Regions from separate parts of the Homo sapiens genome. Here region 2 is linked to region 1. The links come from fine-mapping of genetic effects on gene expression. Tissue or cell type: tibial artery. Region 1 holds a variant in brackets; the other region holds the start of a gene. All regions are shown on one strand. Distances are between the middles of the regions. Region 1 holds the start of SRSF4 (serine and arginine rich splicing factor 4). Region 2 holds the start of MECR (mitochondrial trans-2-enoyl-CoA reductase).

Region 1 (5,376 bases):
AGTCTCGCTGTCGCCCAGGCTGGAGTGCAGTGGCACGATCTCGGCTCACTGCAAGCTCCACCTCCCAGGTTCACGCCATTCTCCTGCCTCAGCCTCTCGAGTAGCTGGGACTACAGGTGCCTGCCACCATGCCCGGCTACTTTTTTTTAATTTTTATTTTCATTTTTAGTAGAGACGGGGTTTCACCATCTTAACCAGGATGGTCTCGATCTCCTGACCTCGTCATCTGCCCGCCTCGGCCTCCCAAAGTGCTGGGATTACAGGCCACCGCGCCCGGCCTCTGAGTTTCAATTACTAATCACAATCTAGATATGTTCAAACATGCTTCCCAGTAGGGAGATCCACTGCCCTTCTGCTAGGGGACTATAAGCTTACATACGTAGCTAAGTTATGCTTTTTCTTTTGTACTCACTCCTTCCTTTCAGACTCTCCAGCGTTTTTGCCATACAGGCAATTTTTGCTTGAAATACATCTTTACCATTGGTCTTCTTCCCAGAAGTCGTTTTCCTCTGTAATGATTCCTCAATGATGCCAGGAGGTCATATTGTGTGCTGTTTGGTGACTGTCATACCTGTCTTTGAAACTCTAAAATGACTTCATTTCAACCTTGACTTTCAATGACATTTCATGCATATCATGGTTTGGCAGCATAACTGTAAGAATGAACAGTTCCTTAAAAAAACCACCCAGGTATTTAGGGTCCTGAAAGGCTCTTTCCTCTTATCGCTCCATCTTCCTTTTGGGTTGCTCACTTCTTCCTTCCAGAGCCTTTGAATTCCTACTCATTGATTTCGAATTTTTAGTGTAAAATCTAATAGTCGTTGTTTCTGGTTTATGTTGTTAAATTTCTAGATTCTTCATAAGGCTTGATCCATGCTAGATTGTTTATTATTTTTCATAATTGCTTCTTACTGGACCATGTCTTCAACACCAATTATGACATTAAAAAAATATTTTTTCCCTATTCATCAAAAAGCAAAAAAAGTCAGCATTGTACTTATTTTATTAGAGATGGGGGTCTTGCTGTTACCCAGACTGGAGTGCAGTGTCACAATCATAGCTCACTGTAGCCTTGAAATCCTAGGCTGAAGTGATCCTCCTGCCTCATCCTCTGAAGTAGCTAGGACTATAGGCGAGTGTCACCACGCGTGGCTAATTAAAAAAATTTTTTTCTTAGAGATGGGGTCAGGCTGGTCTCAAACTCCTGGCCTGAAGTAATCTTCACACTTCAGCTGGGATTGCAGGCACAAGTCACCATGCCTGAGCCCCAACTACGACATATACTATTCCCAGAAACCTAAATTTCTTCACTTCAAGCTCTAATCTATTCTTCAAAGCCATTTCAACACATCTTTTCAAGCAAATCATTCCAAGTTTTACTAGAGTTTAAAGCGAAAGCAAACATTTCTTAATTCAAAGTGCACATGTCATAATGCTTAATTTATTCAAGAGCAGAACTGTTTTCTGCCTCCTCCCCCAATTCATTTAGCACAGTGGTGGACATTTTGTTGATGGGTTATCAATACATTTGGTTGATGAATCAGTTTCCCATTAACAGTCTTGTCATTTCCTGCACACTATCACCTGAGTAACATTAGAAAAGACCTCACCAAACACGCTTTATGTTATCAAACACCAACAAGCAAAGATGTTTCCTCATCCCTCTGATTATAGCTGCCACTTACTGCCTAAGCCAAATGCTTTACATTTATTATCTCTAATCTTCCTTTTCCACATGAATGAACAACCAGGTTCAGAGAAGTAACTTGCCCATACGTAGTAAGTGGTGGAACCAGGATTTGACTTAGGCCTGGCTGGCTTCAAAATCCACACTTTGTCCACAAAAGTTAGTTATGCTGTCAATTTAGCTGGGCTCTGAAAAAAACTGGAGTTTCAACTTTCACATATATGGTATGTATACAATAACGTCTACCCGCCACTTCAATATATCCTTAAGAACTGAACGTTTTACTGTAGAAAAGGAGTAGTTTTTAAAGCCTTTTACTGTAAAAGAAATCAGTACTTTACTAAAGACGTCCTCAGAAAGAAAACGATTCTAATAATTAATTTGAAATGGCTTTTTAAACCCAAATCATCATTTGAGAATACGGTAGCTACCAGTTTTCTCATACGTGAAACATACTTAGGTAACTTTCAAAATGTTTCAGGTGTCAGTTACTAGTATAACCCTGGGGAGTAAACGGTAGCTATATTACA[A/C]CTGTTGCAAAGTAGAGTTTCTTTTTTAAGCCAAGAGTTCTCTAACACCCAAGGTTTAGTGCCCTAAAATGTCACCCCAGTCCTTTTAATTTTATATCCATGCCTTCCAAGCCCTACCTAACATCTGGTTCCCAGTTTTCCCCGTTGAGTATTTTCTCCAGGCCTGATTCCTCAACAGTTTTCCCTAAAACCTGTAGCTCATGCTGGCACTATTTTTGCCGAAGTAGATTAAGAATACAAGTAATAGATCATACTCTGGGGGAGGCAGTAAGTTAACAATTTCGTCTCCGTCTGCGTTAACCAGACGCAGATACTAGCCAGGGTGGCCACTATTCTCCTAACAAATTCTACAACGGCCAAGCAATTTTTCGGTAAGTTGGAAAACGGAAACCACAGCGTGGAAACTCTGCACGGAGTCTTAAAGATAAGAAGTTAAGACTTTAATTTACTCTTGCAGAGGGAACGGTGAAGGCTTTCAGCACGGCAAGACGATACTTTCGAAACTGTCACTAGACTACTCAAACTGGAGTCTCCCGCCCAAAAAAGCGTGGCACACGGCTAAAAAGGGCCTCCCTCCAAGGCTCCAGTCCTCGGGGAAGACGGCGCTGTGACCGTCTGATCCATGAGACCGGGCAAGAGGTGAAAGGGAGCAGGAAATCCTGTTTATTTCCAGTAGTCCTCAGAGCGGGAAAGGTTGGTGTCTACCCAGAAACGAATAGGGCCCCAGTTCCGGGCCTAGGAAGGGAAAACCCAGGTCTCCCGGGCGCCCTGGAGCTGTGCCCCCCTGCCCGGAGCACCAGCCCCACTCGGGCTTTCCTTCTCCCCGTCCCACTCAGGGCCTCAGCACAGCTCCCATTATGCCTCCACCACCCCCACCCGCGCAGGCGCAGTGGGAACCGGGGCCTACCCGCGCCCCCGAGGCGCCGCCACTATGGCGGAGCCTGGCCAGGCCGGTAGCCGCTCCGCGCGGACCAGGCGTCCCTCTCCCGTCCCCGCGGCCTCCCCACCACCTATGGGGTCTGTCCCCGCCCGGCCGGACCCTCTTTCGCCCTCCTCACCCGTTCTTCAGATCCACCTCCAGGATCTTCCCGTAGCCCTTAAAGAAGCGCTCCACATCGCGCTCCCGGGCCTGGTAGCTCAGGCGGCCGATGTACACCCGCGGCATCCCGGCAACGGCAGTGATGGCTGGCCCCGGCCCCAGCCCCCCTTAGGCGGCGGCGGGCAAAGCGAGAGCACGGCGGCAGCGGCGGCGGCGGCAACGGGCGGGCGGCGGGACGGACGCAGCCGAACCCCGGCGACGTACGCGAGCACGCAGCTCGCGAGCGCGCGCTTCCACTTCCCCCGCCCTTCCCCGAGGCGGAAGGTAACCGGAGAGAGCGCGCGTTCGCTTCCCGCTCGGCCAGGACTGGGGGAGGAGCTTGCCCGGGGGCGCGCCGACGTGCGGCGGGGCAAGGTGATCGACAGGCGGCGCTGCGGCACGTCCTCGCGCGAGCTCGCCAAAGGGGTTCCTGCACCGCCTTCCGCAGCCAGCTGGCTTCGCCCCTCCCCCGGAAGTGTCCGCACCTCCTAGAGCCCAGCGAGCGAGCGTTTGTGCTTTTGTCCTTTGAACCGGGTGTGGTTTGGATTTCGGAGCTGGAGCTTTGGAATCAAACCTAGCTTCCAAACGATTGTGTACCCGTGACCTTGGGCTTGTTACGCGCGATGTCTCGGACCCTCCTTTATCTTTTCTGTAAAAGGGGGAGAGTAGTTCCTACCTTCCAGAGTTGTCTTGAGAATTATATGAGAATACGTACATAAAGCACTTAGTAGTTTTGTCATATCAAGTGCCCAATAAATGAGACCAGTATTATTTTTAAGAGGACACTGCTTAAATAGAAGCAGTGTGAGAAGCGGAGAAGGCTGGAGCTTTGGAGCTAGACTAGGCATGACGCCGAGTAAATTACTTGACCACAATCCAACCTATTTTTTTTTTTTTGAGACGAGTTTCGCTCGGTCGCCCAGGCTGGAGTGCAGTGGCGCGACCTCAGCTCACTGCAACCTCCGCCTCCCGGGTTCAAGCGATTCTCCTGCCTCAGCCTCCAGAGTAGCTGGGACTACAGGCGCCCGCCCCCACGCCCGGCTAATTTTTGTATTTTTAGGAGAGAGGAAGTTTCACCATATTGGCCAGGCAGGTCTCAAACTCCAGACCTCAGGTGATCCGCCCGCCTTGGCCTCCCAAAGTGCTGGGATTACAGGCGTGAGCCACTGCGCCTGGCCTATCCAGTCTATTTTCTAACCTGTAAAATTAGAATAATGTATACCCATCTCAAGGATTACACAGGTCACTAAATGGGGTAGTGTATGTGAAAGTACTTGGAACAGTGTCTGAAACATGGTAAGAGCTCAATAAATATTGGTTCCCTTCTCACTAACGCCATGTACCTAGAACCATAAAGGGTTTTGTTTCTTTGCTTGTTTTTGTTTTTTGAATATTTTGAAAGGATAACTCAAGGTTCAAATGATACACAGTGAAAAGTCTTCGCTGTCCACCAGCCACTTAGTTTCTCTTCCCAGAGGCAGTTTCTGAAATGTCCTTTAGGAGGTTAATTTACCCTTATAAAACAAATAGTAGGATACTATACATATGGTTCTACACAAAATATATTTTGAAAATCATTCCTTAAGAGTATAAAAGGACTAGTTTTATGGTTCATACCATTTTATACACAGTAATTTATTTAGCCAGTGCCCTGGTGAAGGACATTGAAATAAGTTCCAACCTTTTGTTATTACACTGCTGCAGTAACTTTGCATTTCTCTCTCTCTCTTTCTCTCTCTCTCTATATATATCATCTATTCCTAGAAATAGGATATTTGGGTCAGAGTTTTGATAAGTTATTGCTCAATTCCCCTTAAGTGGCTGTTTCCTCATATCCTCATCAACACCGTGTTATCAAACTTTTTGATCTTTGCCAATCTGAGAGGTGAAAAATGTTATCTCCAAGTGGTTTAATTTGCAAATATCATATTTTGCAGAGATATGAGTCTTTCTTCATATGTTTGAGATATATTTTCCTATTTCTGTCTGTGTATATCCTTTACCCATTTTTCTTATTCATAGGTGCTCACTATATATTAGGAAAATCAGCTCTTTGTCAAATGAGTTGCAAATATTTTTTC
Region 2 (5,376 bases), 50 kb after region 1:
CTAGAGGGAAATTACTGAAGTTCCACAGAAGGACATAATAGAAGCTTTTTTTTTTCCTAAGTGGCATCTGCAAACAGACCGGTCTGTTCCAGCTTCTCTGGCTCTCCAAGAGGAGGGAATCAATTAGGAGGCAACTGCATTCAGCTGAACTTTCCCAGGCCTTCCTCATCACCACAGCAGAACTTAATAAAAGGTTCACTTTTTTTGGAAATTTAGATTTAGATTGAACTAACATTTTAGGAGCACCTGTTTTGTGGCAGGTCCTGCTGCAGACACAAACTACAAGTCCGTGGGAGAGACACTACATGGTTCTCATTTGGGGTACATTCCTGGAAATGGAGGAGTGTTCATCAGAGCTGTACCAGTTCCTTACAACGCAGTCCTTAGTGAGATGTCTTCCCTGACACAATGCTTTATTACCTACGATCAACATACAATTTGGAGTTTACTGACTGATGTGTCTTCTTGACATTCTTTTCGTTTCTATAATGCGGGATGTGGCTAGGCTGATTGGATGACCTTGAATTTATCTGAGGCTTATCCTCACCACCTGTCAAAACATCTAGCTTGATTTTTTTTTTTTTTTGAGACAGAGTCTCGCTCTGTTGCCCAGGCTGGAGTGCAGTGGCGCAATCTCGACTCACTGCAACCTCCGCCTCCTGGGTTCAAGCGGTTCTCCTGCCTCAGCCTCCTGAGTAGCAGGGATTACAGGTGCCCACCACCAAGCCCGGCTAATTTTTTTGTATTTTTAGTAGAGATGGGGTTTCGCCACGTTGGCCAGGCTGGTCTAGAACTCGTGACCTCAGGTGATCCACCCGCCTCAGTCTCCCTAATGCTGGGATTACAGGCGTGAGCCACCGTGCCCAGCTCTAGCCTGAATTTTAACCATTAAAGTAATACCACATTTGCCCATCCTTTGGAAAATAATCAAACTATTTGCTGGGAATCAAAGAGTTAAAAAGAAGGTACTGCACAAGAGTATGCAGGTGTTTTTTGGTGGAGAGCACTACATAGATCTTAGGTGATTACCACTATGAACTTTGTCTGTACTGTCTCCATTTTTTAAGATGATGAAACCGAGGCTCAGAGAACCTCAGTAACTTGCCAAATGCAAAGCTAGGACAAGGATTTGACCCCAAGTATTTTGATTCCCAGACCTGTGCTTTTGCTTTAGCTCCACTTCAGTGGCCCCAATAGCCCTTCTGAATGGCTATTTATGTGCAGATTTACAATGGTTGGCAACTGACATACTATTTTTATCAACCACGTGCAAAAAGCATGAATTAAGATCCAACAGAATTTTAGGAGGAGGACAAAGTCATAAAAGTAACGAGAAGTTGAATGACTTCTCTAAGACCAAACAGCTACTAAGACGTTGAGCCTGTATTTGACCAAATATAGATACTTGGGTCTGTATGGCACCAAAGCAGCTCTTTTTAACCAAGCCAAGATGCATATACGGTGCAGTGGAGAGAAACATGAGTTTGGAATCAGAAGCCATGGATTCCAGTCTCCTGTTCCAATCACTTATTAGCGGTATCACTCTGGGCAAGTCCCTTGCCCTCTGGAAACAATGATCTATGACCTACTCTTTACTGACACATGAAGATCCAAATGGATGTAAAAGTATTCTGAAAACTTCTTCCAAATAATAATAATAATAGTAAGAACTCACGCAGGTCAGTCAGACATAGGTTGGAATTCTGACCCTGTCACTTACTGGCTGTGTGACCTTGGACGAGTGATTTTACCTCTTCTGCCTCAGTTTTCATCTGCAAAATGGGGATAAATCAATAACTACCCCAAAACATTGTTGTGACAATTAAATGAGAGCATCCATTTAAACAAGGGATTGCCTGACACAATATTCGATCAATAAACATCAGCCATTAATACCCTGATAATTGCCTCTCGGGTCTTCAGCTACCTTCAAGTACGGTCTTTCTGACCTACCAAAAACGCCCTGGGCTTCGGCTTCGGTTTGCTATTCTCTGCCCCCTTCCTCGGACCCTGTCCCTCTCTTCCCAGTCCGCAGCTCGTGTTAAAGCCTTCCAGAAACCCCAGTCCCCTTCCCCGGCTTCGGCGCCGTCTCTTACTCGACGACCTTGGCTGGATCCCCGTGGTGCCCATAGACAAGCGCCCGGACCCGGGCAGGCTCGGCGGATGCGGAGTAGGAGGAGGCGGCAGGTCCGTGACAGCCAGAAGCTGGGAGCAGCCCCCGCCACTGCCGGGCGGGGGTTCGCACCCGCCACAGGGTACTGCAGACCCACATGCTCGCTCCAACCAACACAGAGCCTGACGCCCCGGCTACGTCATCTTCCAGCGACCGCGCGCCTGCGCCCCGCCCCTGCCCCGCCGGGTGACCACTCCCCCTTGGTCCCTTTGAAGGGCGTTTCCTTCCTTCGCTGCCCAAGTGGTGGCGCCTGGCTAGACTGCGTGTGGGCCCCGGAGGGATCCGGGGGTGCGGAGCTTGCGAGGCCGCCAAAGCTGTTGTCTCAACAAGGAGAGTCTGGGGCTAGTCCAAAGTCGTGTCTACAGCCTGCAGTTTGGTGTTTGATTTGGAGGAAATATTTACTCTCCCTGGCCTCAGTTTACCCTTCACATAATATATTGAGTGCTCACCGAGCCAGGCTCTTTAAGGTATTATCTCATTTAATCACCACTACCATGTAACGGCATAGGGAGGCAAAGCTTACTTCCCTACACTGAGGAGAGTACACGAAAGCTGCTGTGGAGGCAGGAGTATGGGGCTTGGAGTTAGAAAACTTAGGTTCAAATCCTAGCCCTGCCACTTCCTAGCTTGGCCACCTTGGGCAGGTGAAACTCTGAATTTTTCTCATCGGTACAATGGGGATAATATGCCTCCTTCCGGATTGTTGTGAGGATTGGATGAAATAATAGAGGAATGCTATTGTGGGTGGGAGAACGCATTGTAAAAAACTCTGTTCAGATGTAAGACAGGAATCACAAGGAGAAGGGTCCTCTCTCAAAATGCTCACAGTGTAGAAAGGGATTAAGTGGAACACTGGAAATGCCTGTAAAAAGGTGTAGCCCTATGAAGGATCTAGTCTGATTTTTGGTGTAGGGAAGACATGAACATTACTAAAACCCCAGATCGAGCTGTGGCTCGTGCCAGAGTGCAATGCTGTAGTCTGAAGAGAAGTGCTCTGGGATGGGGTGGGATGGGGTGGGGGCTCTTGGAGGAGGTGCTGTTAGAGCCAGCCCTGTGATTCAAAATCTTCTGTGTGCATAAAAATAATCCGAGGTCCCATCTTAGACCTACTGAATTAGAATCTTGCGGATGGGGGTTCCAGGAATCTACATCCTTACAAGCTCCCAAGAATATTCTGATGCAGGTGTCCCAGGAAACAGGTTTTAAGATACTGAGCCAGGGCTTTGAAGGATAAGGAAGAGTTCCTTTCCTGGATTTTATTGACTTGAAGCTTGCCATCTCCAAGCCTTTCCTCTGAGGAAGAGAGCACAGCAAAGTACTGTGAGCTAGATTTGGACAAACCTGGCTTTATGTCCTAGCTCTGCCATTTTCCAGCCATTTGATTTCGGACAAGTCACCAGGCCTCTCTGTGTCTTCACTTTCTTACTCTTAAAATGGAAGGAATACTAGTTATCTGTTTCAAGATTGTTGTGAGGGTCAAGTGAGATATTATCCACTTGAAGCATTTAGTACAATGCTTGGCACATGGAAGCATTTGATAAATATTATCGGGGGTTATTGTGATTAAATGAGAAATATCACACATAAAACCCTCAGACTAGGGTCTGGCTTATAGTATGTGCTCACTAAATGTCTGTACTTGTTTTTATTATTAGAGAAAGTTGGTGTCCCATGGTGGGGGAAAGGCTTGGCCCCACATTTATGTGCCAGCACACACACGATGACCAGTCCTGCTTACCCTTTTCCCCAGTGACACATAGGCTTACTTGAACTGGGAAGTACAACGTAACCTTCTGTTGTAAGACTCCCTAGGTGACATTGAGATGTCGACATTCTCTTCTTCACCAAATTGGCTCCTCTGAATTTCTGGGGAGCCCAGTCAGGAAGCCTGAAGAATCATCCAGCAAGTCCTCCTCCTTGGGGCTGGACTTTAGCCTCCTGTGCATCCCAATAGCCCTCACTTTTAGTCTAGGCCATCTGGGTTCTTGCAGGGGCATAGTTTGAGAACTACTGACTGAGGGGTTCAAGTCCAATTTCCTGGACTTGCATTCAAGATTCTTTGCACTCTGACTCCCACACTGCATTTCCAGCTTCATCTTCTCCTGTTGGACCGTGCATAGCCTGTGATCCAGCTGCATCTGATACCCGTCTTCCCCAGTGTGTCTTGTGCCTTTATTCAGGCCACTCCTTCTGCCTGAAATGCTGTTCCCTGCCTCGGAAACTCCAGGTTCAGATGTCATTTCTTTGATGTTTCAAAACTCCCTAGGTCATCTGCTGCTGCCTTTGTGTTTTCCCTGGAGCTGTGTTATGGCCTTTAGTACATCGTCTCTTATTTATTCCCCTCCAGGCAAGACTGGAGCCATGTTTGGTTTATCTCCATAACACCAGCACCCGATATGAGCCTGGCACAGGGTAGGTGTCATAAATATTCCATGAGTTGCAGGTAATTGAATTTCCTCATGGCCTAGAACGGTCTGTGGTGCCATCTCCTTTTCCCTAGATTTGGGCTGGTCACTCCAGGCCAGGAATTTCCTTCTTCCTTCTTCTCTCAAGGATTATAGAAGTCTGTGGTCTTTTTTTTTTTTTTTTTTTTTTTTTGAGACAGAGTTTTGCTCGTTGCCCAGGCTGGAGTGCAATGGCGCGATCTTGGCTCACTGCAACCTCCGCCTCCCAGGTTCAAGCAATTCTCCTGCCTCAGCCTCCTGAGTAGCTGGGATTACAGGTGCCCGCAACTACGTCTGGCTAATTTTTGTATTTTTTTTTTTTTTAGTAGAGACAGGGTTTCACCATGTTAGTCAGGCTGGTCTCAAACTCCTGACCTCGCCTCTGCCTCCCAAAATGCTGGGATTACAGGTGTGAACCACTGTGCCCGGCTGAAGTTTGTGGTCTTTTAAAAGTAAAGCAGAAAGTCCTCTTCTCATCTGTCTACCTGTTGCTTGTGTTCTCTTTCTCCCTCCATTATAGTCTCTGCCATCTTCCCCTGCACAAAGGGCAAAGGGATGTGGAATCAGTCAGATCTGGGTTCAAATCTAGGGCCCGCCGTCTATTTACTAGCTGTGTCACCTTAGGCAAGTGTCATATGCTCTCTGAACCTCAGTTTCCACACCCGTAAAATGGGATCACTGGTAAAACTCCTATTTTGAGGCTCTCTCAAGAGCCCTCTGCAAACAGCACCCTTGGTTGTTTCTTCTGTTCACTGGTTT

Evidence for each region.
Region 2: MECR starts here. The variant in region 1 is fine-mapped to the expression of MECR in tibial artery (GTEx, PIP 0.99).

What each region holds. Positions count from the first base shown.
Region 1 is chr1:29,178,371-29,183,746 of GRCh38, forward strand. SRSF4 (serine and arginine rich splicing factor 4) reads right to left here and starts at 3,530. Exons shown (of 6, transcript NM_005626.5): 1 at 3,276-3,530. The coding sequence starts at 3,382. It also overlaps a transcript of MECR not described here. RefSeq lists enhancers at 1-64, 3,583-4,220, 3,649-3,878, 4,221-4,858 and silencers at 3,129-3,318, 3,369-3,578. The variant A/C (reference allele first, on the strand shown) is at 2,218.
Region 2 is chr1:29,228,635-29,234,010 of GRCh38, forward strand. MECR (mitochondrial trans-2-enoyl-CoA reductase) reads right to left here and starts at 2,300. Exons shown (of 10, transcript NM_016011.5): 1 at 2,097-2,300. The coding sequence starts at 2,272. RefSeq lists enhancers at 1,676-2,176, 2,177-2,677, 2,202-2,311.